Homo sapiens: one gene and its partners. The protein of the gene in region 2 purifies or fractionates together with the protein of the main gene of each other region. This does not show direct contact. Each region holds a gene or a part of one and is shown on either strand. Other genes may lie near its edges.

What was found.
Region 1: the proteins of KNOP1 (region 2) and RPL26L1 purify together in Homo sapiens (affinity purification with mass spectrometry; 3 studies listed by BioGRID and IntAct, with this or other methods). This does not show direct contact.
Region 3: the proteins of KNOP1 (region 2) and RPF2 purify together in Homo sapiens (affinity purification with mass spectrometry; 2 studies listed by BioGRID and IntAct, with this or other methods). This does not show direct contact.
Region 4: the proteins of KNOP1 (region 2) and SRSF12 purify together in Homo sapiens (affinity purification with mass spectrometry; 2 studies listed by BioGRID and IntAct, with this or other methods). This does not show direct contact.

Annotation. Positions count from the first base shown.
Region 1 is NC_000005.10:172,962,291-172,969,522, reverse strand, and holds part of RPL26L1 (ribosomal protein uL24-like), read right to left. Parts: intron 1,065-7,232; coding exon 924-1,064; intron 111-923; coding exon 1-110.
Region 2 is NC_000016.10:19,715,228-19,723,126, reverse strand, and holds the start of KNOP1 (lysine-rich nucleolar protein 1), read left to right. Parts: upstream 1-4,899; 5' UTR 4,900-4,969; exon of another isoform or gene 4,970-5,046; coding exon of another isoform or gene 5,047-5,224; exon of another isoform or gene 5,225-5,776; intron 5,777-7,899. Other genes in the region: IQCK (IQ domain-containing protein K), read right to left, coding at 4,640-4,820.
Region 3 is NC_000006.12:110,977,909-110,985,189, reverse strand, and holds the start of RPF2 (ribosome production factor 2 homolog), read right to left. Parts: upstream 3,153-7,281; 5' UTR 3,084-3,152; coding exon 3,061-3,083; intron 185-3,060; coding exon 52-184; intron 1-51. UniProt on the Homo sapiens protein: Involved in ribosomal large subunit assembly. May regulate the localization of the 5S RNP/5S ribonucleoprotein particle to the nucleolus.
Region 4 is NC_000006.12:89,107,909-89,115,140, forward strand, and holds part of SRSF12 (serine/arginine-rich splicing factor 12), read right to left. Parts: intron 1-7,232. UniProt on the Homo sapiens protein: Splicing factor that seems to antagonize SR proteins in pre-mRNA splicing regulation.

The DNA of each region.
Region 1 (7,232 bases), on a different chromosome or scaffold from region 2:
ATAAGTTCTTCTTTATATTTGCCTTTCTCTTTTCCAACTTGTCGAGACTTGGCTTTGCGTTCAAGAATTTTTTTCCGATCCTTGTCCAGTTTTAGCCTGGTGATAACCACCTGTTGGGAGTGAGAAAACAGGTCTTTATTTCTGCATCCCCACCAGCTATTGAGCAATATAGACATCATAAGTTAAGTAAGACCTCAGCCATTCAGCTTTTAAGGAACTGAAACTCTGGAAGGAAAACAGACCCTGTAACACAATACAAAATAGGAACACAAAGGAAAAATAGCATGTTCCACTAGGTAGGCATGAGGGCTACAGGAAGATATATTCTCTCTTATTCCTCTGAATATTATGTGGTAGGGGAAGTGATGCCTAGAACACTTGGAAGCCTCTTGCAACCAGCTTAAAGACACAGCCATCGGCCGGCCATGATGGCTCACACCTGTAATCCCAACACTTTGGAAAGCCGAGGCGGGCGGATCACGAGGTCAGGAGATCGAGACCATCCTGGCCAACATGGTGAAACCCCATCTCTATTAAAAATATAAAAATTAGCTGGGCGTGGTGGTGTGTGCCTGTAGTCCCAGCTACTTGGGAGGCTGAGGCAGGAGAATTGCTTGAACCCAGGAGGTGGAGGTTGCAGTGAGCCGAGATCGCACCACAGCACTCCAGCCTGGTGACAGAGCGAGCATCCGTCTCAAAAAAAAAAAAAAAAAAAAAAAGACACAGCCATCACCAAGAAAGGCAAAACAGAAAAGAGAAGAGAAGAAAAATCTGGATCCTTGATGATATCACAAAGCTACTGAATCAATCAAGTCCACCTGGCCTGCCTCAGCCAACTGTGCAGGGAGTACCAAAACACCAATAACTTTGAACAGTATTGACACACTCCATGGCTGCTACTGCCACTCAGTCCTTGACCATACCTTGCTTGGGTGAATGCCCACGTGGACAGTTGTGCCGTTGGCCTTCTCACGCTGCACCCGCTCGATGTAGATGACATATTTCTTTCTGTACACCTGGACTACCTTGCCAATTTGCTGACCTTTGTAGTGTCCTCGAACTACCTAAGAGAAAATACAAAAGAGAATCCCCCTCCATTTGTAGTGCATGATCATAAAGAGGAAGCTAACCATCAGGAACACATGGGCTAAACATATAACTTTGTCAAAAGCAGCTTAATCCTGGCAGTCAAAAATTAGCTACTTTTCTGATATAAATCTGTGTTGTGCTATGGTTGGGTGGAGATTTTTTACCTGGATCCCACAGAAATGTGCGATATGAGCTTTAGAGGAAAAAGGAGAATACAAAACTACATATAGAATATACTCTGAACTATATATATATACATATATATGTCAAGTATCCCTTATTCGAAATGCTTGAGACCAGAAGTGTTTTGGATTTAGGGTTTTTGGGATTTTGGAATATCTGCATTACTAGCTAAGCACCCCAAATCTGAAAATCTGAAATCCCAAAAGCTCCAAAGAACACTTCCTTTGACCATCACGTTGACAAAGTCTCAGATTTTGGAGCATTCTGAATTTGAGATACTCAAACTATATGAGTGTATGTGTGTGTGTATATATATAATATATATTACATATGTGCGTATATGTATTTATATGTCATATATACATACACGTATCATATACATACACATATGTACTTATATGTAACATACATATATGTCATACATACATATATGTACTTATATGTCATATATACATATATGTGTATACATACGTATATATGTGTATATATGTATATATACACACACATTTCATATATATAGCATGACACAGTGGGATAAAATATATATATAAATATTGGTAACAGCTGCCATTAGGCAGGAAGCAGGATTACAGATGACTGATTTTTAGATTTATATTCTTCTAAATTTCAACATTTCTACATTTAATACAAATATTTTAAAGTCAGAAAAAAAATTTTAAATCTCACAGACTGTTTTACTGTACTAAAAATCTACTCTATTCAAAAACCAACTAGATTAGGGTTTCCTTGAAAGCAAGAGCTTATTTATTTATTTATTTATTTTTGACACGGAGTCTCGCTCTGTTCCCCCAGGCTGGAGGGCACTGGCATGATCTTGGCTCACTGCAACCTCCACCTCCCAGGTTCAAGTGATTCTCCTGCCTCAGCCTCCCAAGTAGCTGGGATTATAGGCACGCACCAGCAGGCCTGGCTAATTTTTGTATTTTTAGTAGAGACCAGGTTTCGCCATATTGGCCAGGCTGGTCTCGAACTCCTGACCTCAAGTGATCTGCCTGCCTCGGCCTCCCAAAGTGCTGGGATTACAGGTGTGAGCCACCATGCCCAGCCACAAGAGCTTATTAAACACCATGCATGGGGGCCGGGCACGGTGGTTCACACCTGTAATCCCAGCACTTTGGGAGGCCAAAGCCGGTGGATCATGAGGTCAAGAGATCGAGACCATCCAGGCCAACATGGTGAAACCCTGTCTCTACTAAAAATACAAAAATTAGCTGGGCGTGGTGGTGGGCGCCTGTAGACCCAGCTACTCGGGGGGCTGAGGCAGGAGAATCACTTGAACCTGGAAGGCGGAGGTTGCAGTGAGCTGAGATGGTGCCACTGCACTCCAGGCTGGCGACAGAGCGAGACACCGCCTCAAAAAAAAAAAACCACCAGGTACGATGTGACTCTGATTAATAAGCATAGAGGAGATACCACATATAAAGAACTAGAGAACCCCAATACTCCTAAAATGTCTACGTATAGCTTGTTTGGCTTATTTTCCAAGGCGATTTTTAGGTTGAAGAGGACAATCATATCTCAGTGAAAAATCTACCACAGACTACATGACCAGAGACTCTCAGGACACACCTGGAAGAAGTCTTGTTAATACCATCAAGACTGAAGAAATACACACATACACACTTTTTTTAAGAGACAGGGTTTCACTATGCTGCCCAGGCTGGTCTCAAACACCTGAGCTCAAGAGATCCACCCACCTTGGCCTTCCAAAGTGCTGGGATTACATGTGTGAGCCACTGCACCTGGCCAAGACTGAAGAAAGATCTTAGGCCGGGCATGGTGGCTCACAGCTGTAATCCTGGTACTTTAGGAAGCTCAGGCAGGTGGACTGCTTGAGTCCAGGAGTTGGAGACCAGCCGAGGCAACATAGCAAGACCCCGTCTCTACAAAAAAAAAAAAAAAAAAAAAAAAAAAAATAGTTAGCCAGACATGGTGGCATGCGCCTATGATCCCAGCTACTCGGGAGGCTGAGGTGGGAGGATCACTTGAACCCAGGAGGTTGAGTCTGCAGCAACCTGTTTTTGCACCACTGTACTCCAGCCTGGGTGACAGAGTGAGATCCTGTCTCAAAATAAAATAAAATAAAAAATTAATTTAAAAAATTTTTAAAAAGAGAAGTGGACAACCTCTGGACATAGTGAAGAGGAAGACAGGAGACAGGATAAGACTAAGTCGGCTGGTCGACTAGACTGGAGAGGTGAGGATGAAGAGGGAAGGATGATACTCAGAGTCTGGCTTGGGCAACCAGGTGGATGGCAATGCCATTGCCAGATGCAGAGATCATAGGGGAAGCCCCGTATTTTAGGAGGAAATAGTTTAGTTTGGAACATGCTAAATTTGAAGCATCTGGGGACATTCTAACAGAGAATTCAGACACAGCTGGAATGCCAACTGGGCCAGCAATAGAGACGTGGGAGTCATCCACAGAGAGGCAATTAGGAGCTTCATGTTGCTCAAGGAGTGATGGTATGAGAAAAGGGCAGAATGTACACATGTGAGAAAAGCCAGCATTTTGGAAGAGCTTGTGAGAGATTAATGTGGCCAGAGCGAATGGGAAATCATGCAAGTGTGGTGTTACAGCAGCCAAGAGAATGTCAAATTCTGTGGGACTGTCAAGAACACAGAGGATAAGGTATTTAACAGATCTGACAACAAGGTCATCAACAGTGGCTGTGGCTGGAATGCCTTCACTGAGTGCTGGGATGGAGGCCATTAACAGTAAAGTGATGAGTGTACCAGGTGAGAAGGTGAAGGTGAGAAAAGACAGTCCAAAGGAGCTTGGCTCTGAAGATGAGAAGGGGATAGATGTTTGAGGGGGATGGAAAGCTAAGGGAACTTTCCTTTATTTTTTATTTTTAAAGAAGGGAAAACATGATTGTGTTTAAATGCTGATGGAAGGAACAAGTATGGAGGAAGACGGTAAAAGAAACTACAGAGAAAGAAGATAAGGGACCAAAAAAGCTCCAAGAGAAGAATGGAGCAGCACCCAGTGGCAGATGGATTAGGCTTAGGCAGAAACAGGGATATTTCTTTCTTTTTTTTTTGAGACAGAGACTTGCTGTGTTACCCATGCTGGAGTGCAGTGGCGTGATCTTGGCTCACCACAACCTCCGCCTTCTGGGTTCAAGTGATATCTCATTGCCTCAGCCTCCCTTGTAGCTGGGATTACAGGCATGTGCCATCACGCCCAGCTAATCTTTATATTTTTAGTGCAGACGGAATTTCGCCATGTTGGCCAGGCTGGTCTCGAACTCCTGGCCTCAAGCGATCCACCTGTCTTGGCCTCTCAGAGTGTTGAGATTACAGGCGTGAGCCACTGCACCAGGCCTGGGATATTTCTTTCATTGTAACAGAAGGGAAAGAAAATAAGAGGGGTGGAACTACAGGTAAACGTGTAGGTGTGGAGCCACGATTTCTGAAAGTTCCTGGCTGATAACTTCAATTTTCTCTGTAAAGTAGGAGGAACCATCACCTACTCAGAGAAAGAGGAAGGTAAGTGAGATTCAGAAGATCCCGTGAGAGGAGGCAATATTAACAAACCCAATCAGGGCTATTTTATTCTCCTGGTGGAGAAGTGTTCAGCCAGCATGGCCTTTGGCTGAAACAATTCATACCTCTTAGGCATTCAAAAAATGGCAACAGGCAGCCGGGCGTGGTGGCTCACGCCTGTAATCCCAGCACTTGGGGAGGCTGAGGCGGGTGGATCACCTGAGGTCAGGAGTTCGAGACCAGACTGACCAACATGGTAAAACCCCGTCTCTATTAAAAATATGAAAATTAGCCAGGCATGGTGGTGTGTGCCTGTAATCTCAGCTACTTGGGAGGCTGAGGGAGGAGAATGGCTTGAACCCGGGAGGCAGAGGTTGCAGTGAGCCGAGATTGTGCCACTGCACTCCAGCCTGGGCAACAAGAGTGAAACTCTGTCTCAAAAAAAAAAAAAAAAAAAAAGGCAACAGGCCAGACACTGTGGCTCATGCCTGTAATCCCAGCACTTTGGGAGGCCAAGGCAGAAGGATTGCTTGAAGCCAGGAGTTTGAGACCAGCCTGGGCAGCAAAGCAATACCTATTTTTAAATAAATAAATAAATAAATAAATGTCTCTAATTTAAAATATATATATATTTAACAGCAGCTCCTTCTCCCTCTTTGCCCTCCTTCTCTGTCTCACCTTCTACATCTTACCTACTCAAAAAATTTTTTTCATTCATTCAACAAATATTGACTGACCCTTCTCCTCTCTAAGTGTCAGGCTCTGCACTGAGGTCAGACAACAAACAAGATGAACTCTCTGGTTTCATGGAGCTTAGCCTGATGGCCAGTAAGCAGTTAATGAGTACATAGACAAATACATGACCACTAACTGGAATAAGTCACATAGGAACTTACTGGGATGATTAAAAATGGTCTTTTTAATGGTCTAATCATAATTAGGGTAATGGCTATTTGGTTTTACATTTGCCAAAACTGACCTGTGCATTTTACTGTGTGTAAATTATGCCTCAGTTAAAAATAAAATGATTTCAAATTGTGCTTACTGCTACGAAGAAAAAATAAAGAATGCTAGGCTATAATATTGGTTAAAGGATCTGGGAAGGCTTCTCTGAGGAACGGACATTTAAGGTAGGACCCGAAGAATGAGGAGTTACCTATGTAAAGGAGAGAAGGAAGAGCACTCCAGGCAGAGAGAACATTCCAGCGGGAGAAAAGATCAAGGTGTATTTAAAGACCCCAGAAGCCCAGTGTGGTTAAAGTGTAGAGCACATGGGGGTTAGGAGGAGATGAGGATGGAGAAGTAGACCAGGATTGGCCCATAGAGGGCCTTGCAGTCAATGATTTTAGATTTTTTTTTTTTTTTTTGAGACCGAGTTTTACTCTGTTGCCCAGGCTGGAGTGCAGTGGCGCAATCTTGGCTCACTGCAACCTCTACCTCCTAGGTTAAAGCGATTCCCCTGCCTCAGCCTCCCGAGTACTTGGGATTACAGGTGTGTGCCACCACACCTAATTTTTGTATTTCTAGTAGAGGTGGGGTTTCACCATGTTGGCCAGGCTGGTCTCGAACTCCTGACCTCAGGTGATCCACCCACCTCAGCCTCCCAAAGTGTCGGGATTACAGGCGTGAGCCACCGCGCCTGGCCATGATTTTAGATTTTATAAGCACATCAGGCACCATTGGTAAGCACCTGGCTAACTCCTCATTTCTCAGGTCTTCTCTTAAATGTATTAGTTCCTCAGAGAAGCCTTCCCAGGTCCTTTAATCAATATCATAGCATCCTTTATATTTTCTTCATAGCAATGAACACAATTTGAAATCATTTTATTTTTAACTGAGGCATCATTTACATACAGTAAAATGTACAGGTCAGTTTTGGCAGATATAAAACTGCCAAAGGATTTTTTTTTTTTTTTTTTTTTTTTGAGACAGAGCCTCACTCTGTCACCCAGGCTGGAGTGCAGTGGCATGATCTTGGCTCATTGGAAGCTCCCCCTCCCGGGTTCACGCCATTCTCCTGCCTCAGCCTCCCAAGTAGTTGGGACTACAGGCGCCCACCACCACGCTCAGCTAATTTTTTATATTTTTAGTAGAGATGGGTTTCACCGTGTTAGCCAGGATGGTCTCAATCTCCTGACCTCATGATCTGCCTGCCACAGCCTCCCAAAGTGCTGGGATTACAGGCGTGAGCCACTGTGCCTGGCCGTTTTTTGTTGTTGTTGTTGTTGTTTTTGAGACAGAGTCTCACTCTGTCACCCAGGCTGGAGTGCAATGGCACAATCTCGGTTCATTGCAACCTCCGCCTCCCGGGTTCAAGCGATTGTCATGCTTCAGCCTCCCGAGTAGCTGGGATTACAGGTGTGCACCACCACGCCTGGCTAATTTTTTGTATTTTTAGTAGAGATGGAGTTTCACCATGTTTCCCAGGCTGGTCTCAAACTCCTGAGCTC
Region 2 (7,899 bases):
ACTGGTGGGGGTGGGGAGTGGGGGCAGGGTGGGGATGGTGGGAGATATTAAACAGGTAGAATCTATAAGGACTGGCAAATGAGAGTGTGGGGCCGTGGAAAGTGAAAGGGAAGCAGGCCGGATGCGGTAGCTCACGCCTGTAATCCCAGCACTTTGGGAGGCTGAGGCGGGTGGATCACCTAAGGTCAGGAGTTCGACACCAGCCTGGCCAACATGGTGAAACCCCACCTAAAAATACAAAAATTAGCTGGGCATGGTGTCAAGTGCCTGTAATCCCAGCTACTCAGGAGGCTGAGGTGGGGGAATTGCTTGAACCTGGGAGGTGGAAGTTGAAGTAAGCAGATATCGCACCTCTGTACTCCAGCCTGGGCAACAGAGCAAGACTCTGTCTCAAGGGAAGGAAAAAAAAAAAAAAGCTGGACTGGGCAGCTGAGTGAACGATGGTAACATTCGTGGAGATGGAGATAAGTTGTTGGCGTCTAAAACAGTGCCTGCAGTTATACCTGGCCCAGCATTGAAAACAGTTCCCAGCCCTGGTAGATACAAGTTGGCTCAATGCTTAAGAACAATTTATTCGGAGAAATGAGGAAGAAGCTGGTCTGCCCTTAGTTGATAAGGGAATGGGAATGAAAGACTGATAGGAGCTGGAAGAGGATATAGGGTCATGGTGGAGGTTTCTTCCTGATATGACAGGCCAGGGGTGTTTGGAGGAAAAAGCTAGTAGAGAAGTTAAAGGCGTAGCAGAGGAAGTGAGTGATAAAGCAGGATCCTGGAATAGCAAGGGGACGGTAAGCAAAGATGGAGAGCTGAGTGGCGAGTAGCGGGGTGAGAGCTTCTTCCACGTGTACAGATGGATGTTAGCAGACTCCCTCCCCACTCCTGACTGCCTGACTCTTCTCAGTGAACGCATCCTATGCTAAGAGGTATCACAGAACATTTCAGGAGGTGTTACAGACTTGGACTAGTAGAACCAGGCAATGGGAGAAGGCATTGAGAGATGCTGATTGCTGAGCAGTGCTGAGAGCCAGTTGGGGTCATCTTTCTTCAGCTGGCTCAGTGGCTGTGCTGGAGGAACAAGTATTGATTCACAACTGATCCATGTCGGTATCTGGCAGGTGAAATGAAAGGCCAGATTTTACAACAGCATTGAGGGCTGAGGCCAGAGAGTGCTTGATTAAGTGATGAACCAATGACAATAGTGAGGATGCTGATAACAGTAATCACAGCATATCAAAATAGGAAACTGTAAGGCCAGGCGCGGTGGCTCACGCCTGTAATCCCAGCACTTTGGGAGGATGAGGCGGGCTGACTGCTTGAGGTCAGGTGTTTGAGACCAGCTTGGCCAACATGGCAAAACCCCATCTCTACAAAAAATTAGCCAGGCATGGTGGTGGGTGCCTGTAATCCCAGCTATTTGGGAGGCTGAAGCAGGAGAATTGCTTGAATCTGGGAGGCAGAGGTTGCAGTGAGCCGAGATTGCGCCACTGCACTGCAGCCTGGGTGACAGAGCCAGACTTCATCTCAAAAAAAAAAAAAAAAGGAAACTGTTAAGCCCCACATCCTTTGATTGTCTTGATTAAAACCATGAACACAGCTAGTCACAAACTACTATAAGATTTGATTAGAAGTGTTGGCCGGGAAGAAGTTTATTGACACTAACACGAGTGCTTTTTAGAATACAAAACTCAGTTGTCACTGGAAAGATGAGGGAGAAAACTGAAGAATATTTACAAATAAGTTATAGTGGTGAGCATGCACATACATACAAAAGAGCACTAGTCAGGTTGGTTAAGGTCTGTGTAAGTTAGATATTGACCTACTTTGTATTTTGTCTTCATGAAATTGAGTTTCTGGCAGGTCTGTTTGCTATGATAATTTGTCTTTTGAATGGAGATTATCTTAAGAGAATGTAGTACTTAATCTCAAAGATAGGATTACTACAAAGCCTGTTTTTTCATGTTTGTTGTCAGAAACTGAATTTACTACATGTTATAGAAAACTGCATTTGTTAGATGTTTAAGAATTGGGTTTATCCATCTGTTATAATACTCATCACAGTGTCCATGTGTATAGTTTGCCAATGTTGACCTCACTGAATTGTTTTTTTTTTTTTTCTAGACGGATTCTTACTTTGTTGCCCAGGCTGGAGTGCAGTGGCACGATCTCAGGTCATTGCAACCTCCGCCTCTCAGGTTCAAGCGACTCTCCTGCCTCAGTCTCCTGAGTAGCTGGGATTACCCACCACCAAGCCTGACTTAGTTTTTATATTTTTAGTAGAGACAGGGTTTCAACATGTTGGCCAGGCTAGTCTCCAATTCCTGACCGCAGGTGATCCACCCGCCTTGGCCTCCCAAAGTGCTGGGATTACAGGTGTGAGCCACCATGCCTGACCTCATTCTGTAACTCTATCATTTTAAAAGTGGCATCAATTCACTTGCTCTTCAGAGAGAACCAAAACCCTTTGTCTTTGCTTTCTCTCTAGAGGCCTATTTGACCAAAATAAACTCGGTGTGTAAATCACAACACAAGGCATGTTTCTTTGTCAACAATAATGAACATTTATTGACTACTTTTTAAATGCCAGGCACTGTGCTAAGCACCTTTTCATACATTATCTTACTTGGTCCCCACAACAGCCCTGTGAGGTAGGCACAACAATTATCTGTCTCTTACAGATGAGGCTGAGTAACTTTTCTAACAATCCTCTAGTAAACTGTATTATAAGAAACTGTTTGGCTTGGAGAAGTGAAAGCTCTGGGGAAAAGGCAGCCACAATAACTACCGTCAAATTATCTGAGTAGATTCTTTGGGGTAGAGTGATTAGCTCCTTGGATCATAGCACCAAGAGGTAAGGACGTAGGGGTGAAAGTGACAAAGAGAACATGCAAAATGAAAGGGATTTTTCTAGCACAATGTAAGGTTGGAGAAGGAATTTAAGTACTGGATGGGGTTGAAACAGACAGCTTTGGAGGGCATCTATCAACTGAGTCTACTATTCTCTTCCTTCTCTGTATTCTCCACTTCTTTCGAGTCATCGCATATACTGGTACATTCATTCTTTTTTTCCATTCAATAAACATTTACTGACCTGCACTATCCAATACAGCAGCCACTATCCAAATGTGGCTATTTAAATTTATTAAAATTAAGTCTGGGCTGGGCCTGGTGGCTCAGGCCTGTAATTGTAGCACTTTGGGAGGCCGAGGCAGGTAGATCACCTGAGGTCAGGAGTTCAAGAGCAGCCTGGCCAAAATGGTGAAACCCCTTCTCTACAAAAATAAAAAAATTAGCCAGGAATGATGACGGGTGCCTGTAATCCCAGCTACTCAGGAGATTGAGGTGTGAGAATGCTTGAACCCGGGAGGCGGAGGTTGCAGTGAGCCCAGCCAGTGCCACTGCATTCCAGCCTGGGCGACAGAGCAACATGCCGTCTCAAAAAAAAAAAAAAAAAAAAAATTTGAGTCCAACAAGAAATTCAGTTACTCAATTGCACTAATCACATTTCAAATGCTAACTAACCACACTTTTTTTTTTTTGGGGATGGAGTCTCGCTCTGTCACCCAGGCTGGAGTGCAGTGGCGCAAACTCGGCTCACTGCAACGCCACCTCCCTGGTTCAAGCAATTCCCTTTCCTCAGCCTCCCAAGTAGCTGAGATTATAGGCGCACACCACCACGCCCAGATAATTTTTTTTTTGTATTTTCAGTAGAGACGGGGTTTCACCGCGCTGTTTCAGGCAGCTTAGGTAGTGATGGTGGCCACACGAATGAAAAATCTGAGTCCTTGACCTTGAGGAGCTTATGGTCTAGTGGAGGAAAAAGAAAACATCCCACCCAACATTATTCATTAAGAACTAGCGCTTACGTAGCTCCTTCTGTAAATCGAGCAGTTTGTGTTTTTTTTTCCCCAATAATCCTTTTGCCCTCCTAAAATCAGGCAGTTTGCTAAGCACTTTTTGTGACTATCTGGTTCCATCTTCTTAACACCATCGAAATAGGTGCCATTATTATGCCCACTTTGCAGACAGGGTCATAAGTTAAATAATTTGCCCAACCTAAGTAACAAATACTGAGTAGAGCCACAAAGGAAGATGTGCTCAACTCCGCCTGGGGAGGTTAAGGAAGGTTTGAAGCAAGAAGGGACTAAAACCCGTTTGTCCACACCATGGTTACTGAACGTGTGGGCCACCGACTACCTACGTTAGGATTACCTGGGGTGCTCTTTTAAAAAGTGCAGATTCCCTGCATCCCAATTTGAAGCTCTGTGGGCGGGGCCTGGGAACCTCCGTTTATAACAAGATCCCCACCCCGGCCCCCGCCCCAGCAATTCCTTTCGGTTCACTAACCGAGGTTTAAGAACCAATGGTCCACACCGCATGGTTCTCTTTATTCAGCTTTCCCTCGCCGTTCCCTTGCCTTTAACCTCACTACGGATCGCGATTGGAGTCCGCGCTGCGTAACCTCGGGCCAGCCTCTCCGAGCCTCAGTTTCCCCATGCGTAAAATGCGGAGCCCGGGCCCGCGGAGCCGCTGCCCGGCGGCCCCGCCCGTCAGCCGACAGGCGCACAGTGGGCGCTCCCCAAACGCGGCCCCCGTCCGGCCGCCCGGGTCCCGCCCCTCTCGGCCAGCCCAGGTTTCCTACCCTTGCAGATCTGCTCCCACAGATTCTTGCTTGACGGCTCGGTGACCTGCCACGACGAGACAGGCAGCTCGCGGGACGCGAGAGACACGGTGGGCACCGGCGTCCGGGTGAACGACGAGTCTGTAGAGCAGCTGGGCTTGAGGCGCACTATGTGGCTGGGGATTTGCCGCGGTGCCGCCATGGCCGCGGTTTCCACGGTAACCGCGTTCGCCGGAAGGCCGCGACCCGGAAGAAGCCGGAACCCGAGAGGGTGGGCCGGCGACTCGAAGTGGACTTCCGGGTCACGGCGGAGCTGGCTCTCACGTGGAGGCGGGGAAATTTCGCCCACCGGTGAGTGCCAGGGCGCGTTGCAGGCGGGCCGGCGCGGGGTGTGGAGATTGCACCAGAGGAAGTGCGCGGCGGGGAAGATGGGGAAATGCGGTCCACCCACATCCCTGAATCCGACCCCTCCAGTCGGTGTGCGCCCGCTCCGGCCTGAGGCCGCCGCCTCCAGAAAGTTTTCCCGCCTCAGAGCCGGCCCTGGGACCCCACGTAATCCCTCCCAGTCTGTTGATGCGGAGGCTTGGGCCCATGGGAGCCTTGGAGGTACGGATCTTACTTCCTGGCTCCCGCGCGTCCTGCTGGTGATCCTGCCGGGGGAGTGGGGTGTTGCTGCACAGGCTTTGGAGTCCTGTGGGCGGAATTCCAGTCTCCGTTTTCCACTTGCTGGCTTTGGAACCTAGGGCAAGTGAATTATTGTAGTCTCTGGAGCTTGCGAGGTCGGGTATTCACAAAGATCTTCACAAGGCTGTCCCTGGAATTTAAAAGCGGTTTTGGAGAAAGCGTTTGCGTTTGCAGGAGATGCACTGTAACGTTCTTTTCCTTTCTCCTTGAAAGAGTGAATGCATTTGGTCGCAGGGCTAAAGAGGAGGATGCTATACTTTTCTAAATGGCAAGAGATGGGGAGAGAAGGGGATTAAGAGTTGACCCGCAACCTCCCGGTGGATTCTTTGTTCTTACCAGATCTCTTGGCCACTCCCCTATTCTGAAGTCGTCTTGGCTCTCTTGACTGCTCCCCTATTCTGAAGTCGTCTTGGCTCTCTTGACTGCTCCCCTATTCTGAAGTCGTCTTGGCTCTCCTGACTACACTATTTCAAGGTTTGCACCTTCTTCTTTGCAAGCTCCTTTATCTCTGCCCACTTATTTAAATGCCAATACAATAGTCCCCCTCCCCCATTATCCGCGGGCAGTACGTTCCTAAACCCCCAGTGGATGCCTGAAACCACAGACAGTACCGAACCCTAAATATAACTGTTTTTTCTTGTGTATACTATCTATGAGAAAGTTTATAAATTAGGCACAGTAGGGCCGGGCGTGGTGGCTCATGCCTGTAATCCCAGCACTTTGGGAGGATGAGGCGGGCGGATCACCTGAGGCCAGTAGTTGGAGACCAGCCTGGCCAACATAGTAAAACCCCGTCCCTACTAAAAATACAAAAATTAGCCGGGCGTGGTGGTATGTGCCTGTAATCCCGGCTACTCGGGAGGCTGAGGCGTGAAAATTGCTTGAACCCGGGAGGTGGAGGTTGCAGTGAGCCGAGATGATGCCACTGCACTCCAGCCTGGGCAACAGAGCCAGACCTTGTCTCACAAAAAATTAGGTGCAGTAAACGATTACCAACAATCTAGCTAGTAATAAAATAGAACAATTACAACAGTATACTGTAATAAAAGTTGCATGCATGTGGTCTCCCTCTCAAGATAACTTCCTGTACTGTGCTCACCTATTTTGGGACCAGGGTTGACCAGGGGTAACGGAAACCTGGGATTAGGTGGCGAGCTACTGTATTTCTTGAAGTCTTGTCTCAGGCTTGTTCTGTTCAAGGCTTATCACCACCCATACATTCCTAACTTTATGTCGCCCGTGTCAGCACGGCCACCCAAACTCCTCATCCATATATATTCACCTGTCCAGTGAACATCTCCAAGTCATCTGTCCAATCAAGCCTGTTCTTCAGCCACTTGCCTTCAGTACCTTTGTCTCAGGGATTAATACCACCATCCTGCAGTTGTTCTTCAGAAATTTTCCTGACAACTGGTAGGACAGGTTCCACAACCTCCACCACCCTGACCTTAGCACTGTCCTTGCTTTTATCACCTGTATCATTGTATTACACCTTATTCCCTCCCACACCTACTTGCTTCTTGATGGGTGGTGTTTTATCTTGTTCATCTCTGTATCCCTAGCATGTGTGCATTCATTCAGTGAGTATGTATTGAGCACCTGCTATGTGCCAGGCACTGAGCAGGACACTGGAAATAAACCAGGAAACAGGGCAGACAGCAATGAATGAGTATAGTTATTCCCTTGACTCTCCAGGTGCGCCTGGAGTGGGTTATGAATGAACTTGACCTGTAGCTCAGGCCTGGCTCTTTGAAGCTGCTAAGAGAGAGCCAGCTCCAGTGTGGACCCTCTGAGTTCCGAAGCTGAGGAGGGCTGCAGGATGGAGAAGTTTTTCCTTTCCCTCCCATGATCCTAACTTGCTATGAAATATTTTGGGATATTTTGCTTCTAGATTCTGGGAATGTCTAGTGCAGGAACTTGGCTGGGGACTGGAGTGAGAGCAGTGGTCCAGCTGGACACTGATGGGTATTGAGGACCCCAGCCCATTCTCACAGGTGCTTCCACGATATCTGTCCAAGACAAGCTGGGTGCCCTCAGTACTGTGCATCATTGTGACTCATTCAGTGTTGGCAATCAACTTCAAATTTTAAAAACAGTGGAACTAGGCCAGGCAAGGTGGCTCATGCGTGTAATCCCAGCACTTTGGGAGGCTGAGGCGGGCGGATCACTTGAGGTCAGGAGTTTGAGACTAGCCTGGCCAACATGGAGAAACCCCGTCCCTCCTAAAAAAGAAAAAAAAAATTAGCTGGGCATGATCACGGGTGCCTGTTATCCCAGCTACTCAGGGGAGGCTGAGGCAGGAGAATCACTTGAACCCAGGAGACGGAGGTTGCAGTGGGCCGAGATCACGCCACTGCATTCCAGCTTGGGTGACAGAGCAAGACTCTGTCTCAAAAAAAAAAAAAAAAAAAGAGAAAAAGAAAAAGGGAATTAACAGTGTACCAAGCCCTTTCCATGGGTTATCTCATTTACTCCCTCCAACACCCTTTTGAGGAGGGAGGTGTTATATTCCCCCATTTTCCAGATGGAGAAATTGAGGCTCAGGGAGGTTAGCTGATTTACTTAAGGTGAGAGAGGCATTTAGGTTTGAACCTAGG
Region 3 (7,281 bases), on a different chromosome or scaffold from region 2:
AAATTCTAAAATGACTTCAATACCTTTTAAAGATTAAGTATATATACTTACCACATCTTTAAGTACTTTTGTCACTGTTGCATTTGCATTTCCCCCTTTAATCAGCATGGCATTTTTAATATTTTCATTGAGTTTCGGTTCTCTCTTCTCAAGGAATCTCTTGGCTCTTTTCGTTTTGGGCTTTCTGTTCAGAAAAGCACAATTCATAACTATTTAAACATTTTCCTCACATTGCAAAGCCATGACTTAACTAATATGAAAATTCTTAAAAACATATTTGTCACTTAGGGTTCCACCCTTAAAAAAAATCTCACTTTCTTTTTTTTGTTTGTTTTTTTTTGTTTGTTTTTGAGATGGAGTCTCACTCTGTCACCCAGGCTGGAGAGTGATGGCACAATCTTGGCTCACTGCAACATCCACCTCCTGAGTTCAAGCAATTCTCCTGCCTCAGCCTCCCGAGTAGCTAGAATTACAGGCACACACCACCACGCCTGGGTAATTTTTGTATTTTTAGCAGAGACAGGGTTTCGCCATGTTGGTCAGGCTATTCTCGAACTACTGACCTCAGGTGATCCGCTCACCTCGGCTCCCAAAGTGCTGGGATTACAGGTGCGAGCCACAAGGGCCGGCCAAAATCTCACTTTTTTGGTAGATATTAGTAAAAGATATTTCCTTATTATTGTTAAATAAGTGTTTTGATAGCTTTTAAAAAAAAGCTTTCATTTTTGTATTCCCACCATTCTTTTATTACTGCTCTTTCCAATCTTTTTTTTAAGTAAAAAATAAAAGGCTCAAGTAAATACTGTTGCTGTTTTTTTTCTCTTACTCTTTCTTACTCTTCTTTTTTCTTCAAACTTTAAGTAGTCAAACTGTATCCTGTACCCTAATACAAAGAATTGAGCATCAACTGCTGATCAACCTGTGGACATTTACTAAACATAAGACTAACGACTGCTTATTTTTCTTTTAGGTTTAAGACCACAATGCCTGCCAGGAAGTATACACTGTTGCACTCCAACATCATTGCTGAGAATGCCAGTATTATTGCCAACAATGGGGAATAATAAGGCTGATGTTTACATGGAGTCACTCTATTAAGGCTTAATCTTCACCACAATCCTGAGAGTTACAATTCTTATTTATTTATTTATTTATTTTTTTGAGACAGAGTCTCGCTCTGTCGCCCAGGCTGGAGTGCAGTGGTGCGATCTCGGCTCACTGCAAGCTCCGTCTCCCAGGTTCACGCCATTCTCCTGCCTCAGCCTCCCGAGTAGCTGGGACTACAGGCGCCCGCCACGACGCCCGGCTAATTTTTTGTATTTTTAGTACAGACGAGGTTTCACCGTGTTAGCCAGGATGGTCTCGATCTCCTGACCTCGTGACCCACCCCCCCGCCTCAGCCTCCCAAAGTGCTGGGATTACAGGCGTGAGCCTCCACGCGCGAGTTACAATTCTTATCTTCACTTTACAGATGAGGCAATTGAACAGACAGGTAATGTGCCCAAGATCACACAGCAAGTAAACAGGCCAATTTTTAAAATGAGCTAGGGCTGGGAGGTGGCCCACAGCCTGTAATAAAAACACTCTAGGAGGCCAAGGTGGATGGATCACTGAGCCCAGAAGTTCGAGACCAGCCTGGGCAACAATGCAAAACCCTGTCTCTACAAAAAATACAAAAATTAGCTGTGGTGGTGTGCGCCTATAGTCCCAGCTACTCAGCAGGCTGAGGTAGGAGGACTGCTTGATCCCAGGGAGGTCGAGGCTGCAGTGAGCTGTGATGGGGCTACTGCACTCCAGCCTGGGTGACAGAGTGATACCCTGTCTCAAAAAAAAACAAATTTTTTAAAGCTAGATTTAAAAATTCGTCTAGACCAATTACCCTGTAAAATATGAAGGGAAAATAAATTCATTATTCTGACTTTATGATGTGACAGTAGGAGTGGCATGTTTTTACACACTTCTGTTCAAAAGAGGGGCTTCACCTCTGCTTCCTCTACAATGAGCACCTTGCTTTTCAGACAGTTCTCTGCCATCTACTGAAAGAATTCTTCCTCCCAAATAATTATGACCCTCCCTCGTCCAGTCCCATGGACACTTTGGGAAGAAAAAGAGACCATACATACACTTAAGTTTCCCATGTAGATTTTTAAAATACTCCTCCAGATATAATGTCACATATAAAGCTTCTGATCATTTACTGGTTGATAAAGATACAAATTATTCTATCTTTTGTATCTCATTAAACAGCAACAAATGCAAATAGCAATTAACATGTTTTATTAGCTGCCTGCTCCCAATTAACGTGTGAACTAGTCCCAATACCTAGTAAACTACTCTTTGTAGTCCAAACAGCTAGAGGCATAGCAGGTGTGCAAAATCTCTGAATGACTAAAACTGTCGTTTTGGATACATGTTAACTTAGGTAAATAGCAAGAAAATCACAGCAAGTAACAGCAGGGCTGTTTAGCCCAAATATTCTTGAACAAATTTAAAACAGGTATCATTCAAGGATAACTCAGAGGAGTGTACAAAGTTGGAAGGAAAAGAAAAAACTAATGAACATTTCTACGTGCTGCAGCAAAGGCTCTACATACATTCTCGAAACTAACCCTCACAGCTCTATGAAGTATGACTATGGTGAGCGCTATTTTACAGAATAAGCTAAGATTTAGAGATATTTAATGACCCAAAGTCACAAAGCTTTAAGTGGACGCGCCAGACTGTCACTCAGATCTGTCGGATTCCGAGGGCTGTGCTCCTAACCCCACTATACCATCTGTCTCATACTTCGGAAGTCAGACGTTTTTCAACTGGCTAGGATAAAAGCGGCCAACGCTTCAATCCCACATCCCTCCCATCCCACGGCTCCCACTTGAGAGCTTCCCCACTGTCTCCTGGCAAGCAGCTCGCGCTGAGGAGGACCCGGGCTGGTGATCGATCGGCCCCCACCCAGGTAATTAGAGGGGTAACCAGGAAGAGTGAGAGGCCGAGACAGTACCACCCTCATCACGGGACCCTTTCACCCCAACGCTCCCCGGGGCTGAGACCCAGCGCACTTACACTACTCGATCCAGAGTGTCCATCGCTACCGCTACCTGCAACTCTTAACCAGGGGGCATGCACGTGCCCTCGGCGATTACGTGCGCCGGAACAGGCGGAACCGGAAGCTGCGCGTAACGCCACTTCCGGGGACGGCCTCGTAGAGGGCGTCTAGAGGCGCTGGCGGCCATCTTGATTGGAATCGCGCCCTGTTGTCTTGGTTACGGATTTTTGCCCCGGCTCTTTCCTGGAGTTACAGGTGCGAGGTAATACTTTTAAGTAACACTGGCCGGGCGTGGTGGCTCACGCCTGTAATCCCAGGATTTTGGGAGGCCCAGGCGGGCGGATTACCTGATAACAGGAGTTCGAGACCAGCCTGGCCAACATGGCGAAACCCCGTCTCTACTAAAAATACAAAAATTAGCCGGGCGTGGTGGCGGGCGCCTCTAACCCCAGCTACTCGGGAGGCTGAGGCAGGGAGAACTGCTTGAACCCGGGAGGCGGAGGTTGCAGTGAGCGGAGATCGCGCCACTGCACTCCAGCCTGGGTGACAGAGCGAGACTTCGTCTCAAAAATAAAATAAAAATAAAATAAAATAACATAGACCCTCGCAGTTTGATGTACGCGCTAGTGTGCATACCTGGAGTCAGGTATTCAGAAACCAGATTTTATTCTTCAAGGAATCCCAGGATGCTAGAAAGGTTGATTGATTGCACGGTAGGTACTCACATAAGCACTAAAAACATTGATGTGAAAGGGGCACTATTGACAACTATGCGATCTGTGTGACAGAATTTATGACTACCACAGTTGCCTAGTACATAAAAGATGCGCAGAAAATGTACTGCTGTTCGTGATTTTTCCCCAGTTTTTAAGTTACCATATACTTCACATACCATAAAATGTACCCCTTTACAGTGTACAATTCAGTGATTTTTGGTGTATTCACAAAGATGTGCAAATATCACCACTAATTCCAGAATATTTAATCACCTCAAAAAGAACCCCCCTGACACACACACCCAGTAGCAGTCCATGCCCCACTTCCCCCTCCTGCCAGCCCTTGGCAACCAATAATCTACTTTATGTTCAATGGATTTGCCTATTCTGAACATATATAAATGGTTTCGTGCAACGTATGGCCTTTTGTGTTTGACTTCTTTCACTATCTTTTTGAGGTTCATACATGTAGCGTGGATCAGTACTTCCATTTTGTTAGGACTGAATAATATTCCTTTGTATGGATATACCACATTTTGTTTATCCATTTATCAACCTAGGTACTTTTTTTATTTTAGACATAGTCTTGCTCTGTCGCCAGGGCTGAAGTGCAGTGGTGCGATCTTGGCTTACTGCGCCGTCCACCTCCCGGGTTCAAGCAGTTCTGCCTCAGCCTCCCAAGTAGCTGGGATTACATGCACGCACCACCACACCTTGCTAACTTTTGTATTTTTTAGTAGAGACAGGGTTTCACCATGTTGGCCAGGCTGGTCTTGAACTTCTGAGCTCAGGTAATCCACCCGCCTTGGCCTCTCAAAGTGCTAGGAATACAGGCGTGAGCTACTGTACCCGGCAGCTTATGTACATTTGAATGGTTCCTATTTTTTGGCTATTATGGATTATGCTGCTTTGTGTTTTTTTGTTTTGTTTTGCTTTGCTTTGTTTTGTTTCTGAGACAGAGTCTCACTCTGTCACACAGGCTGGAGTGCAGTGATGCAATCTCAGGTTACTGCAACCTCCATCTCCTGGGTTCAAGTGATTCTAGTGCTTCAGCCTCTCGAGTAGCTGGGACCACAAGCGCGTGCCACCACACCCAGCTGCTTTGAATATTAGTGTACAAATTTTTGTGTGGACATACATTTTCAATTCTCTAGGAGAAAAATTGCTGGGTCATATGCTGACTCTTAAGTGTAACATTTTGAGGCACTGGTAAACTGTTTTCCAAAGCACCTGCACCACTTAAATTCCCATGAGCAATGTAAGAGAGTTTGGTATTAGTTTCCTATTTCTGTTGTAACAAATTATCACACATTTATTATTTTATACTTCAGGAAGTCAGAAGTCTGAAATCAGTTTTGCAGGTCTAAAATGTAGGCCGGAAGCAGTGGCTCACACCTGTACCCAGCACTTTGGAAGGCTGAGGTGGGCGGATCATGAGGTCAGGAGATCAAGACCATCCTGGCTAACACCATGAAACCCGATCTCTACTAAAAATACAAAAAATCAGCCAGGCGTGGTGGCACGCCTCTAGTCCCAGCTACTTGGGAAGCTGGGGCAAGAGAATCACTGGAACCTGGGAGGTGGAGGTTGCGGTAAGCTGAGATCGCACCACTGCACTCCAGCCTGGGCAACAGAGTAAGACTCCGTCTCTTAAGTAAATAAATAAATAAATTAAATAAATAAATAAATAAAATGAAGAAGTCAGTAGGACTACATTCCACCTGGAGGCTTCAGGGGAGAATCGGTTTCTTGGCTTTTTCCAGCTTCTGTAGACTGTCTGCATACTTTGGCATTTCTCCATCTTCAAAGATCATCAGTTGAACTTCTTCCATTGTCACATCTTTTTCTCTGATGCTCTGACACTCCTAACTCCCTCTTAATAAAACCCTTGTGATTACATGGGCATCACCTGGATAATCCATGATAATCTCAAGATCCTTAATCGTATAGCAAATTCCTTCTGGGCATATAAAGTAACATATTCACAGATACCTGGGGGTTCTCAACATCTTTGGGCTGGGAGTTGAAGGAAGCATTGTTCTATCTACCAAAGGTTCCAATTTCTCCACTCCTCACCAAAACTTAGCATTGTCCATCTGTTTTATTAAGCCATCCTAACAGATATGAGTGGTATCTCATTGTGATTTTCATTTCCTTGATGGCAAGGCAAATGATGGTGAGCATGTTTTCATGTGCTGATTGATTACCCATTTTTATATCTTCTTTGGAAAAATGCCTATCCAAATCCTTTGCCCGGTTTTTAAATTGGGTTGTCCTTTTATTGTTGAGTTCTAATATTTTCTCATGTATTCCAGATATAAGTCCCTTACCTGATACATAATTTGCAAATATTTATCCCATTTAGTAGGCGTTATCTTGTTGTTAATGTGCTTTTCAGCACAGATCTTTTGAACTTTGTTGAAGCCCAGTTTACATATTTTTTCCTTTTGTTGCCTGTGCTTTTGGTATCATATCTAAGAAGCCATTCCCTATTCCAACATCACAAAGATTTACCCTATGTCTTCTTTCAAACATTTTTAATTGCAGCTCTTATATTTAAGCCTTTGGTCCATTTTTATTTTGATATATGGTGTGAGATAGGGGTTCAACTTTATTCTTTTGTATATGGATATCCAGTTGTCCCAGCATCATTTGTTGAAAAGATTATTCTTTCTCCATTGAATTGTCTTAGCATCCTTTTGCAATATCAATCGACCATAATTGTAAGGGTTTATTTCTGGACCCACAATTCTATTTAATTGATCTGTCTGGTTTTCATTATGCTAGATCCACAGCTTTGATTACCATATAGCATTGTAGTAAGTTTTGAAACTAAGAAATGTGACTTTTATGATTTTTCTCTTTTGCAAGATTGAATTTCCATATGAATTTTAGGGTCAATTTCTCAATTTCTGCAACAAAGGCAGCTTGGATTTTTCTTTTCTTTTTTTTTATGTTATTTTATCAATTGATTTTTTTTTTTGAGATACAGTCTCCTTTTGTTGCCCAGACTGGAGTGCAGTGGTGTGAACACAGCTCACTGCAGCCTTGACCTGGGCTCAAACAGTGCTCTCACCTCAGCCTCCCGAGTAGCTGAAATCACAGGCATGCACCACCACGTCTCACTAATTTTTAAATTTTTTATAGGGATGGGGTCTCATGTTGCCCAGGCTAATCTCAAACGGCTAGGCTCAAGCAATCCCCTTGCCTCAGCCTCCCAGTGTTCAGATTATAGAAGTGAGCCACAGCACTCGGCCTGACTTCTTTTCCTAGTTTGTTGAATGCTTTTTATCATGCAAGTGTGTTGGATTTTGTGTGTGCTTTTTCTGCATCTATTGAGATGATCATGTTGTTTTTTCCTTTATTCTATTAACATTTTGTATTACACTGATTTTCATATGTCCAACCAACCTTATATTCTTGGAATCAATCCTATTTGGTCATGGTGTATGATCCTTTTTATATGTTACTGGGTTCAGTTTGTTGATAGTTTGCTGAGGATTTTTGTGTCTATATTCATCA
Region 4 (7,232 bases), on a different chromosome or scaffold from region 2:
AGTTATTATAAGACCTAATAAGTAATTGTTTCACTAAGAACACATTCATTTTGCTTCACTTTAATTTCATGTTTATGTTAATCTTGTTTTCAGATAGCAAGAATTAGATTCTAAAGAAGTCCTAAAATTATTTATCAGGCTTTAAAGAAAAATGGATGTTTTAATATTAAACATAAAACAAAGTAACTACTGTATTCCCAAATCTGACAGGTATTTCGAGCCTGCTTATGTGCCTTCTAGTGCGATTAGGTGCTTCAGAAGGGGTACCAAAAAAAAGAAACAGCATGATATTCATCTTCATGGAGCTACAATTTAACTGAAGAGACAAAATATTTAGCAATAATAGCTAACAGTTACAGTGCATTTATATGTTAGCCAGTGTTCACCTTACAACCACTTAATTCTTACAATTTCCCTGTGGTTATTTACAGATGATACAGACAGATTATGGGTGATACAGACAGAATTTCAGGTTATTTACAGGTAATACAGGCAGATTACAGGTGATACAGACAGAGTAACCTATCTAAGCTCACTGAGCCAGCAAGTGACAAAGCTAGAAATCAAATTTTCAGTCTCATACTGGTCCATCTTAACCACTACACCCTACTGCTTCATGGTGCTATCATAGGGATTCAGCATCAAGCTATGATCATAAAATGTGGCTCGGGAGAAATAAAGATTCAAAGATGACTAAGAAGCTTCTAGCTTGGACAAATGGAAAAAAGATGGTGTCAGTGACAAAAATTAGAAGAGAGCTAGATCAAGGAGGAAGAAAAGAGGCAAAAGAAGCAACTTTCAGGTTTAGAAATGCAGTATTTGAGGTGATGGTAGAACACTGATAAGAGTTCTATAAGCAACAGAAAATTGTGATTATATGCATATTAATTAGTGTGTATTAATATAATTATTAGAAGCCAGTGACTAAGGCTAGAGATGGGGATTTAGAAATTACATATAAGATTCAACAAAAATTGACTAAGCATCTACTTTTTGCCAGTAGCTCAGTCAACATTATGACATACTTTATTTCATTTAACACTCATAGAACATGTTTTACTATTAGTTTCTGAGGACAGTGACAATGTCTTTTTTCTTTTACTTATTCAGAATTAAGCAAATACTTATTGAGCACCTACCATGTGCCAGGCTCTAGGAATATAATGAGAAACAAGAAAAACACAATTCCTGCTCCCACAGACCATAGACTGGCATAAAGATTCTCAACCTCTCCTGAGTACTGTAATCATCTGTGAAGGGATGTTACAGACAGAGGCACCCCAACCCGATGCATTAATTCTGGACCTAATTAGTGTTTTCCATAGTGAGGCCCAGTTATGTTTAATTTTTTCAGGACTTCACAGGCAATTCTGAGACTGAAGGTTAAGAATCACTGCTAAAGCAGGTGTCTTCACCAGCATATCTCTGTACCTAATGTAGCTGCTGGGCACACAGTAGGTACTCAATATATATTTGCCTATCAATGAAAAAAGAATACATTACTGTTACCATTTAAGAGTTAAGGAGACTGAGGGTGAGAGAAGTTACCTTGCCCAGAGATCTACACAGCCAGTAGTAGAGCTAGGATTCAAATGAAGGTCTTCTGAGACAACCAATCCCATCAACCAAATGTAGTGGCTAAGAGGAAAGGGATCATAGATAATATAAAAGAGGAGGCTGCAGCACTGTGTGCCACAGAGGTCTGGAGTCTGGAAGCCAAGGGTGATGGGAGTCAGATGGAACAGGTCTTTTCAAAAGAGCCAATTCCCATTCACTGTCTCCACTCCCTCACCTGTTAGCTGTTGTTTTATTTTTGCACTTTTGGTATGATCTACTTCAATATTCAAAAAAGTACAGAGAATAATAAACACCCATGTATCTACCAACAAGATTTATTTTCTGGCCGGGCGCGGTGGCTCACGCTTGTAATCCCAGCACTTTGGGAGGCCGAGGTGGGCGGATTACGAGGTCAGGAGATCGAGACCATCTTGGCTAAGAGGGTGAAACCCCATCTCTACTAAAAATACAAAAAATTAACTGGGCGTGGTGGCGGGCGCCTGTAGTCCCAGCTACTCAGGAGGCTGAGGCAGGAGAATGGTGTGAACCCAGGAGGCGGAGCTTGCAGTGAGCCAAGATCATGCCACTGCACTCCAGCCTGGGCAACAGAGCAAGACTCTGTCTCAAAAAAAAAAAATTATTTTCTCCGTATTTGACATACTTGCCATAATTTTCAGTATTTTTAAAGAAATATTATATCCTTCTGTTACCAATGGAGGGTCTTGCCTATGAGTCCTCCAGGTTCTTGGCATTTTTAACAAAGAATTGGACAAAATGCACAAAGCAATGAAAAAATGAAGCAATGAAAGCACAGATTTATTGAAATGAAAAGATACTCCACAGAGTGGGAGCAGGCTCAAGCAAGCCACTCAAGTGCATTGGTTACAGAATTTTCTAGGGTTTAAATACCCTCTAAGGTTTCCCACTGGTTACTCGGTTACACCCTATGTAAATGAAGACTTGGCCCACCACCAGTCTGGTGGAGGGAGGCGACCAATTAGAGGCTGAAGCAAAGCTACAAAGTTACACATGAAGACTTGGCCTGGGACCAGTCTGATTGGTTGTAGGAGGGGACCAGTCAGAGGTACTTTCCATTTTTTATCTGTAATACAGTGCAAAGGGAGTAGCCTCTGATCCTTTTGTTACTTGGGTGTAGAGAGGTGGAGTTCTCCTTTTGATTCAGTTCTAGGAAGTCACTGTGAATCGGCCTTAGGTTCCCTGCCTCCAGACCCTATTCTCCTGCTTCAGTATCACTAGCAAAGAAATTGGTAGGCTGGAGGGTATGCCTACCTTAGCTTCACTACATGTTCTTCAGAGTGGCCCAACCAACTTACATTTCCAAAAACATGTGTTAGAATTCCCACTGTTGCCCAGGCATGGTGGCTGATACCTGCAATACCAGCAGTTTGGGAGGCCAAGGTGGGAGGACTACTTGAGCCCAGGAGTTCAAGATCAGCCTGAGCAACATAGTGAGACCCCCATCTCTACAAAAAATAAAAAAAAATTAGCTGGGCGTGGTGTCTATAATCCCAGCTACTTAGGAGGCTGAGGAAGAAGAATCACTTGAGCCCAGGAGTTTGAGACTGCACTGAGCTATGATCATGCTACTGCACTCCAGTCTGGGAAGACAGGGTGAGACTTGTCTTTTTTTTTTTTTTTTGGAGATGGAATCTTGCTTTGTCACCCAGACTGGAGTACTGTGGCACAATCTCGGGTCACTGCAGCCTCCACTTCCCAGGTTCAAGCTATTCTCGTGCCTCAACCTCCCAAGTAGCTGGGATTACAGGCATGTGCCAGCACACCTTGTTTATTCTATTATTAGTAGAGATGGGGTTTTGTTATGCTAGCTTTTAAAATTCCTCTTGAAAATATGTTGTAGTTTTTGGTGCAAAGGTTCTGCACATTTTTTGTTAACTGTTTTCCTAAGTAAGTATGCCTTTTGATGCTATGGTAAATGCAACTGTTTTTTAAAATTGTCATTGTTTTCAATTGTTTGCTGTTAATATATAGAAATAAAGTTTTTGTAAATTTACCTTATATCCTCATAACTTACTAAACTTATTAGTTCTAGCAGTTTTTTTGTTCATTCCCTAGTATTTTCTATGTAAGCAAATATGTCACCTAAGAATGGTTACTTTTATCTTTCCAATTTTTGTATTTTATATCTTTTTTCTTGCCTTGTTGCACTGGTTAGGACCTGCAATAAAACGTTGGCGGTTGTGAGTGGCAATCTTTTCTTTTTCCTGATTTTATAAGGAAAGCATTGTCTTTCATCATTAAGTATGATGTTAGCTATGTTTTTTATAGCTGACATTTATTAGGTTAAGAAGTTCTCTTCTATTCCTAGTTTGCTCACACGTTTTGTTGTGTTTTTGTTTTTGGAGACAGGGTCTCAGGTCTCACTCTGTCACCTAGACTGGAGTTCCATTAATACACTATATTTAACATTAAAAAATTATTCCTTTATGCAGTACAAAAGCAAAGATATTATTTTTCCTAAGCTACATCTTGTTTCACCAGTGAAAAGAAACATAACACAAATTTTAAAACTATTTATTTTGAGACCGAGCCTCACTCTGTTGCCCAGGCTGGAGTGCAAGGGCGTGATCTCGGCTCACTGCAACCTCCTCCTCCCCGGTTCAAGAGATTCTCATGACTCAGCCTGCCGAGTAGCTGGGATCCTCAGGTGAACCGCCCGCCTCGGCCTCCCAAAGTGCTGGAATTACAGGCATGAGCCACCTCTCCCGGCCTAAAACTTATTTTTAAAATTTCTTTAGTTCTTGTGTTCAATTTCATTTCTGTCAAATTTTACACTAATTCACAAAGCCTTTTAGTGTCTTCTGCTTTTAATTTTTTAAAAATTTGTTTTGTTTTAAAACATTCTTAGTAAATAAAATTTGAAAAATATTTGAAAAAAGGAAGAAGAAAAGTAAGTCCTACTGTCCAAATTAATTTCTTTCTAGTCTCATTTTCTTTTCTTTCTTTTTTTTTTTTTTTTGGAGACAGGGTCTCGCTCTGTTGCCCAGGCTGCAGTGCAGTGGTGATATCATAACTTGCTCCAACCTTGAACTCCAGTACCTAGGACTACAGGCACGCATCACCATGCCCGGCTAACTTTTTTTTTTTGGTAGAGATGAGGCCTTGCTATGTTGCCCAGGCTGGCCTTGAACTCCTGTCCTCAAGGGATCCTCCTGCCTTGGCCTCCCAAAGCACTGGGATTACAAGCATAAGCCACTGAGCCTGGCCCTAGTCTCATTTTCCATATATAGCTTTTTCCTTTTTTCATTTTTTAATATAGTTATGCACCACATAACAATGTTTCAGTCAATGATGAACCATATATATCATGGTGGCCCCATAATCTTATAACAAAGCTGTCCTAGACAGGTGTACCTTTTAAAAAATCTTTTACACCATATTTTTAGTGTCTTTTCTATGTTTAGATACATGTAGGTAAATGTCTTAAAATTGCCTGCGGTATTCAGTATTGTAACATGCTGTACAGGTATGTAGCCTAGAAGCAACGGGCCACACCACATAGCCTAGGTGTGTAGCTGGCTTTACTGTGTAGTAGGTTTGGGTTTGTACAACAACAAAATCACCAAATGGATTTGTCAGAACCTATCTCTGTCCTTAACTGATGCATGACTGTAACTGAAATCATGCTGCATATATAATTTTACATATGTTTTATTTAACATTTTATCCCAATGATTTATTTTTTTTTGAGACACAATTTCACTCTGTCACCCAGGCTGGAGTGCAGTGGCCGGTATTGGCTCACTGCAACCTCTGCCTCCCAGGTTCATGCGATTCTTCTGCCTCAGCCTCCCTAGTAGCTGGGACTACAGGCGAGTGCCACCACGCCCAGCTAATTTTTATATTTTTAGTAGACACAGGGTTTCACCATATTGGCCAGGCTGGTCTCGAACTCCTGACCTCGTGATCCGCCCACTTTGGCCTCCCAAAGTGCTGGGATTATAGGCGTGAGCCACCGCACCCAGCCCAATTTTTTCTATTATTAGTAGAGATGGAGCTTCACTATGTTAGCCAGGCTCATCTCGAACTCCTGACCTCAAGTGATCCACGTGCCTCGGCCTCCCAAAGTGCTGGGATTATAGATGTGAGCCACCGTGCCAGGCCCCAAAGATTTTGTTTATAAGCATACTAAATGTTAAAGCCTATTTATTTATTTATTTTTGAGACAGAGTCTCACTCTCACCCCCGGAGTGCAGTGGTGCCATCTTGACTCACTGCAGCCTCGACCACCTGGGCTCAGGCGATCCTCCCACGTCAGCCTCTCAAATAGCTGAACTACAGGTGCGCACTACCACACCTGGCTAATTTTTGTATTTTTTGGTGAGACAGGGTTTTGCTATGTTTCCCTGGCTGGTTTCAAACTCCTGAGCTTAAGTGATCTACCCACCTCAGCCTCCAAATGTGCTGGGATTACAGGCATGAGCCACTGTGCCCTATCTTTAAAGCTAATTTTAAAAGTGTCTACATGTCACATTGCTAGTTAACTTATACTGTATACTACTTTGTACTAAAAGGTTAATACAGATTACATGTGATGATTCTAATTTCATATCATCACTCACCTGCTATTCGATCTTAGGCAAAATACTTAACCTAAACGTTGATTTCTCATCGGTAAAATGGGGTTAACAAAGAACATACGGCCAGGCGCAGTGGCTCATGCCTGTAATCCCAGTGCTTTGGGAGGCCAAGGTGGGCGGATTACCTGACATCAAGAGTTCGAGACCAGCCTGGCCAACATGATGAAACCCCGTCTCTACTAAAAATACAAAAATTAGCCAGGCATGGTGGCACACATCTGTAATCCCAGCTACTCGGGAGGCTGAGGCAGGAGAACTGCTTGAGCCCAGGAGGCGGAGGTTGCAGTGAGCCGAGATCGTGCCACTGCACTCCAGCCTGGCTGACACAGCAAGACTCTGTCTCAAAATAAAACAAACAAACAAAAAAACCACCATACATTATAGGGTTACTGCGAAAATTTAATATATGTAATGTTTTTAGTATGGCACCTAGTACACAGTGAGTATTCAACAAATGTTAGAGATTTCATTCATGTAATATAATCTTGTAGATTTTGATTGTCTGCCAGTGGCAAAGCTAAAAAAAAAAAAAAGTGAAAAAATGGAAAAGGAAATCAGTCAATCTCAACTATCAGTCTCAATCACTCACTGGTGAATGAAGTACATAGATCAGAGATCAGGTGTCACCTGCAGATGTGTTTTATTTGGCCTGCATGACGTTTAAACATTTTTAAAATGCGTATAAATATGAAATTGCCAATATTTTACTGCTTTTATTTTTTTAGTTTTTGAGACAGAGTCTCGCCCTGTCGCCCAGGCTGGAGTGCAATGGTACTATCTCGGCTCACTGCAACCTCCACCTCCCGGGTTCAAGCGATTCTCCTGTCTCCGCCTCCCGAGTAGCTGGGATCACAGGCACGCACCACCATGCCTGGTGAATTTTTTGTATCTTTAGTAGAGACGGTGTTTTACCATGTTGGCCAGGCTGGTCTCAAACTCCTAATTTCGTGATCTGCCCACCTCGGCCTCCCAAAGTGCTGGGATTATAGGCGTGAGCCACCACGCCCGGCCACAGCTTTTATTTTTTTAGACTCTCTAAAGGTCTCTCTGTCACCC